Linked DNA regions of Homo sapiens. The protein of the gene in region 1 interacts with the protein of each later gene in a pairwise test. Each region holds a gene or a part of one and is shown on either strand. Other genes may lie near its edges. The genes, in order: STAC and LIMD1.

Region 1 (3,825 bases):
GGTGCTTGAACTAAAGGAATGTGACAGAGATCAACCAAAGAGAGTAGAATAAGAAGACCAAGCAAAAGCAGACCCCTGGGAACACTCCAACTTAAGGAGTTACAGGAGGACACATCAGAGAAGGAGATGGGCTGAGCAGAACAGCGAAGTTACCCTCGAGTAAGTCAGGGGTTTCTAACACTGCCCAAGCATGAGTGGCTCTGGGAAATGCCCTTCTCAGGTAACATATTTGCCTTGTTAATGGATTACTTCCTTGTTTAACTTCACAATAATTCAGGTTCAAAGAAAACACTGTTAAGGCTAGATGCGTAATGAAAATGAAACAGCTGGGTGCAGTGGCATGCACCTGTAATCCCAGCTACTCAGTACACTCAGACAGGAGGATCATTTGACTCCAGGAGTTTGAGGCCAGCCTGGGCAATAGAGCAAGACCCCATCTCTCAAAAAATATTTTTAAATGAATTAAAATATAGAACAGTAACAATTTCCATTCATTGAGTGTCAATTATGTCAGGCCCTGTGCTAAACACTTTATGTATATTATTGTTACCCAACCTAAGCAGCCTTTATTTACATATAAATCCTACCCATGTATGCTTTGTATATTTTCATCACATTTAGCACCATTTTTATCCTTCTTTCAGTAAAAGAATTAGCATTATCTTGTGGATGCCAAATAACAATGATCTCCTCCCTAAGGAGGTCATCAGGTATCTTAAAATGACACACATTATCCCCTCACTGCTTTGAGGCAATGTCTACCGAAGTGAAACATTTTTCATCTTTACTATGAAATGCTTCAGTACTCATATGACACAGTCATTATAATATCCTTAACACGTGTATGTTACGTTCTCAATCTTAATAAAATGGGATAAGACATATAAAAGTGTATTTTTTTAAAAATGGTAAACAATGCCACCATTGTCAAATTTCTTCGCTATTGGTTTGGTCTTCAGAAATAAGTTGTGAATTCTAAGGGTAAAAGCTATGACTTCCTCTTCTTTTGTGTCCCCTACAGTGCTAGTAAACTGTAGGCCCTTCATTCATGTCTGCTAACTGAGTAGAAGAAAGAACTATCTGATGTCAATTTTATGTACAGTAAGGAAAAAGAGTAAAAATTATTTTTAGTTCTTTCCTCTTAGAAATCAGTGGATGCATGAAGAACAGGGCTTTCAGTGAGTTTAAAGATGGCTTTGAGGATAGCCACATGGCATCAGGCAGAGGACCTATAATCCTACCTACTTGCCTACCCGACCTATTCACCTACCTACAATCTTGTGGCTTAAACTGCACCCAATAGAGGACCTATAAACCCACCTACTTGCCTACCCGACCTACATTCCTATTCACCTACCTACAATCTTGTGGCTTAACCTGCACCCAATGAGGAAGCTGCTTCAACTCAGTCTCTGAGAACCCCTCCCAGGCATGTGCCCTGCCCCTCTTCCCACAATCCACCTAGTCACTTGATGTTGAGAGGACTCAGTGGGGCAGACCATTTGAAGGCTCATCTGTGTCTTGCCTAGAAGCTTCCAGTCCAGCAGGGGCTGCAACAATGGAAATGGAAACTAGGAGCTGGCTATCCTAAGTGGCCATGTGAACTGGAAGGTCCTTGCCTCTTTGCTGGAGGAATGGTGGCTTTCAGCATGGGCTGCAGAGTTGTATGGCATCTTGGAGCATTTATAGAAATTCTGATTGAAACAACCAGAGACAAGATGATGATAACAGGTCACAGAGATGCATGGAACACTCAGTTTAAGTCAGATAGAACTTAGGAGAGGTGCTTGGAAGAGTGAGTGTCCCACAGAGTCACAGTTCAAGTAACTTTGAGAGTGCAGTTTTTGTGTGCAATCAAGAGGTGTGCCCTCTCTTAGAGAGAAAAGACAAAAGATGTGAGAAATAGCTGTGTCTTTGAACTGGAATGTAGCTAAACGGAAAACTGGAAATAGCCAGGATTTCCAAGTTCCTGACCATTGTTTGAGCCAAACATTTCTGTATGTTGACTCATATGTTATCTAATGTTGGTGGGAGGGTAAAGGAGAGGGGGTCCATGGGAAGGGTCAAGGAGCATGAGGCCAAGGGGATGGTCTTTGGACAGGAAAGTAAAATAATCCCTTGGTGTTGACAACAGGAAGTTAATCCTTAGTGGCTCAAAGCACTTTGGGTTTCTCTTTGGCAGGTGCCTGACTCCCTGCAGACCTGCCCTCATGAGGCAGTCAGGTGGAATACCCCATACTGCAGTGCCTGAGGCCCGCTCTGCCCAAGACCACCACAGACAAACCGAGGAAGGAAGAGGATAATTACAGAGGTTCTGTGAGGTGAGTCAGAGCCACTGCCGGAGCTGCCCTTCTTTGTCCTCTGGGCCAGGGAGGTGCCGAAGCGGAGGGTCTCGTAGACAGGGTCCACCTTATTGCCACAGGCTGCAACAGAAGAGAAAGTTCATCTGAGGAAGCTCATCTGAGAGGACCCAGCCAACTGCCTACCACATCTCCTGGGTGAACAGCGCCTGAGAAGCAGGCTCTGTGCAGAGGAACTTAGCCTCTGGGTAGACAGGGCTTTCATGGCCAAGTGTTCCTCACAGATGCACCCCCACCCAGCATGCTCCCATTTGCAGGTCCTGCCATGTACCAGCTAGTACTCTGCTCCCGAATTCTTCCTGATTGAATTTCCTCTTTCGTTATTCCTCTCTGATTTCCAGGTTCTTGCAGGGATCAGCTTTATCTCCTCTACTGGGAGGCTGTGCTCACCAAGGTACAAAGACTTGAGACACAAAGTTTGCAGTAGGAGGCAACTGTTTTAGAAATAACTTGTCACTACTGGGCTTCATTAATTTCTAATTAAAAGCTTTCTAACTTATAAATTTCTAGTTTAAAACTTGCCCCCCCTAAAAAAAGCAAAAATAGATGTCGAGATTTTCAGAGAGAGAAAAAAAATAATAGAAGTAAACTGAAAGATATTGTTAGAGAAGAATCCAAGCCAAAGCTATCAATAAATAGAGGGCATCTTTTGATCTGCATTAGAGAATAATATATTCACTGAGCTCCTACTAAGCATGGGTGAATAACCTATATTTATTTTTTATAGCAATTATGAAAAGCAGCAATTGCTGTTCTCATTTTGTGGGGGTTGACAGGTCAAGTAACTTGTTCAAAGACACACAGTTGTCAATAGGGAGCTGGGCTTAGAGCCTGGTCTGGGGGAAGCCATTCTCCGTGTTCTTTCCACTCCACCATGCTGCTGATGGTGGAATTACTAATCAGTAGCCTTTGGGATTTAGGTGTTTTCTGAGCTTCATCAGGGAGAGGATGAAAATTCCTGGAGAATTTGGTCCACTTTATGTTTCCCTTCCAGCAAAACACACAGTCATACCCCAAATAGCCACCAAACAAACACACAGAGATACCCCACGGGTTTTGCAGCCATGGGAGGACAGTAGCCATTAATGTTAACTTTGCTGCTTCAAACTCAACTCAACCCATCAATGTCCCAACTCACCAATGGGCATAACTTCTTTAATGCAGCCAAACTGTTCATGAATGAGCAAGGGGGAGCTGTAGTAACGCCGAAACCCCTTTGGCTGGAGAGAGAATGAGGAAGGCAAGGGGTTAATGTCACTGGAGATGGAGAAAACCATACAAGAGCTCCCTAAATAAAACCAATTGGTTTCTCCAGGAGCACCCTCCTGTCTCCCATTAACATGCCGACTTATCCTATAATTCCACAATTTAATCCCAGCAGGGACACAGAGGCAGGGAGGAATAGTGGCAACTAGCAAGTTACACTCTATCCAGAAAACAAGGTCCTGGCCCTGGCCTCCCCAGT
Region 2 (2,870 bases), 9.2 Mb from region 1:
TATTTGTATGTCATGGAGTCTGGCTTCCTGCCGAGTTTTCAAATTGGGTGTCCCCTCACTTTCACTCCGTCACAGGCTTGCCGTGGACCAAGTCTCATGGGCAACACAGGGCCCAGAACCACCTGTCCTTGAGAGCTAGGATTAGTTGGAGGGACATGTATGTGACCAAGTGGTGGCAGTCCCTGAGGCTGCCTTACACACCTGGACGTATCCACATAGCCAGAGATTCTCCTAGAAGTGTCACACATCTAGGGCTGTCGCCTACCTGGGAACTTCTAACCAGATCTCTCTGACCATAACCCACAGAGTATGACCTACTCTGTTTTTTTACACCTAGAGTACAAGGTCTCAATCATGTTTGTGTAGGAAGCATTTCTGTTTTCAATCCAGGGAAAATTGCAAACCCCCACTTTCAGGGATTCCTGAAGAAAAGGCACCCAATAACTTAGGAATATTCTTTCATTTCCTCTCAAAAAACGTTCGTTGGAGTCTGTGGTAGGCTGACTAATGCTCCTCCTGTTACCGGTGGAGGGTGTCCAGGTTCTTGGCGTCTTGATAAAGAAATGGACAAAACGCACAAAGCAAGTAAAGAATGAAGCAACAAAAGAGATTTATTGAAAAACGAAAGTACGCTCCACAGGGTGGGAGCAGCCCAAGCAGCTCAAGAACCCGGTTACAGAATTTTCTGGGATTTAAATACCCTCTAGAGGTTTCCCATTGGTTACTTGGTGTACACCCTATGTAAATGAAGCAGAGGTCCATGATCAGTTTGATTGGTTGTGGGAGGGGACCAATCAGAGGCTGAAGCAAAGTTACAAAGTTACACCACCCTATACAAACATCTGACTGGTTGTGTAAAACGCCCAATCAGAGGCTGAAGTTACAAAGTTATACTCCTAGGCAAATGAAGACTTGGCCTAAGACCAGTCTGATTGGTTGTGGGAGGGGATCAATTAGCGATACTTTCAATTTTTCACCTGCCATGCAGAAAAGGGGCTGGGGGTGGGGAGGTTGCAAAGGGAGTAGCCTCTGGTCCTTTTGTTACTTGAGCGTGGAAAGTTGGGGTTTTCCTTTTGACTTAGTTCTAGGAAGTCAGCCTGAATTGGCCTTAGGAAGCCAATTCCATGCCTCCAGACCCTATCTCCTGCTTCCCTCCCCTTCAGAGATGTCCCTGTCCTCCTCACCAGAACCTGTGAATATCTTATTCTGCAAGGTAAAAGAGGCTTTGCAGATGTTATTAAGAATCACAAAATGGGAGATTATTCTAGATTATCTGGATGGGCGTAATCCCAAGTGTCCTTACAAGGAGGCAGGGAGGGTCAGAGAGGAGGTGTGACAATAGAAGCAGCCAGAATGATGCAGCCACAAGCCAAGGAAAATGGGCAGCCTCTAGAAGCGGAAAAGGGGCAAGGAATGGGCAGCACCCTATAGCACCTCTGGAAGCAATTCGCTTCTGCCGACAACCTTTGGCTCGTGTCCAGGATGACAGAATGATATATTTGTGTTGTTTTAAGCCACTGAGGTTGTGGTAATTTGTTAAGAGTGGCCATAGGAAACCAATACAGACTTCAACAGAGCAGCAGTGAGCTTCTCCTCACAGCCTCCTGTGGCTTTTTGACTATGTAGCTTTGATGAAGAAGTATACTGATGGACAATTTACTGCCTCCCATCAACCAGAGTAGTAGAGTGGTCAAGACAGCACCCTCTGGATGAGATGGCCTGGGATGGAGTACTTACTGTTTATTTCACCCTTTTGTGTCTCAGTTGTCTTGTCTATCAAATGAGGGATGATAAAGAACATACAGTCCTTGGAATAACATCTGCTATGTGATGAGCACACGGGAAATGCCAGCTATTACAGCTGCTACTGCTTCATCACAGCACTTAGAACCAGACCAGATACCCCACTGCCCAGTCCCACATGGCCCAATGCCCAAGGCTGACTCTTAGGACTATGCCATCTCCTCCCAATCCCTGGTGCCAGGATGCCTTGCTGGTAGCTGGAAAGTGGCCATGGCGGGAATATTTACATCATAGGTATCAGCAAACACTCCATATCAAGGCTTTTTAATTTTTTGCCCCAGAGGGCTGGTTTGCCAGCACACCACAACTCCAGACCGCCTTTTACCCTGATTGCATCTTCACTCCTTATACCATCAAGGTCTTAAGCAAATAGCAGCCCATGTTGGCAAAATCAGACTAGCCATTCTCTCATCACTTAAAAAGAAAAAAAAAACTTTTATTCTGGTGTAAGGTGCTATGACTATGAGTATCCTCACTCCCAGCTTTCCCGTGTCCTTGGCACGTCAGACCTGGTAGCCACAAGGACTACACTGGAGTCTAGAACAAACTCTTTCCCCACCCCAAGGATTCTAACCACACACTTGGCCCCAACACTCTACAAGTCCTGTCTTCCTGCATGTGGCTGTCTCAAACCTGAAGGATCACTCGCCTTGAGGATTCTTTGGTCATAACCTCAGAAGAGAAAAAACAGTAACATTCACAAGAGAGACAAAGTGACCTTACAAGTCACTGCATCAGGACCTTACAAGTCTCAATCTTAAAGGTCCAGTAAAAGAAACTGCTGATTCTTGGGATATGATTCTCCAAGGCCTCTCACATTTTTATACATCTGGTAAGAATAGACACCAATTGCCAGGTTCCAGACTTATATTTTCAAGGATGTTTATCTAGTGAACAGTCTTGGATGACAGAGATAGTGTCTGTCTCTGGAGCAAAAGTCAGGCAGGCTTACTGCCCATTATCAAATACCAGGGTCCCCTAAGCATGGGGGTTCCTCTTGTAATGCAGCCCACTGCGTGTGCAGGTCTCACCTGGCCCTCTTCTTGGGGCCTGGGGCTCAGGGAACC

What was found.
Region 2: the proteins of STAC (region 1) and LIMD1 interact in a two-hybrid assay, tested with the Homo sapiens proteins (one study listed by BioGRID and IntAct).

Annotation. Positions count from the first base shown.
Region 1 is NC_000003.12:36,484,732-36,488,556, reverse strand, and holds part of STAC (SH3 and cysteine-rich domain-containing protein), read right to left. Parts: intron 3,581-3,825; coding exon 3,499-3,580; intron 2,795-3,498; exon of another isoform or gene 2,632-2,794; intron 2,424-2,631; coding exon 2,308-2,423; intron 1-2,307. UniProt on the Homo sapiens protein: Promotes expression of the ion channel CACNA1H at the cell membrane, and thereby contributes to the regulation of channel activity.
Region 2 is NC_000003.12:45,681,532-45,684,401, reverse strand, and holds part of LIMD1 (LIM domain-containing protein 1), read right to left. Parts: 3' UTR 1-2,870. UniProt on the Homo sapiens protein: Adapter or scaffold protein which participates in the assembly of numerous protein complexes and is involved in several cellular processes such as cell fate determination, cytoskeletal organization, repression of gene transcription, cell-cell adhesion, cell differentiation, proliferation and migration.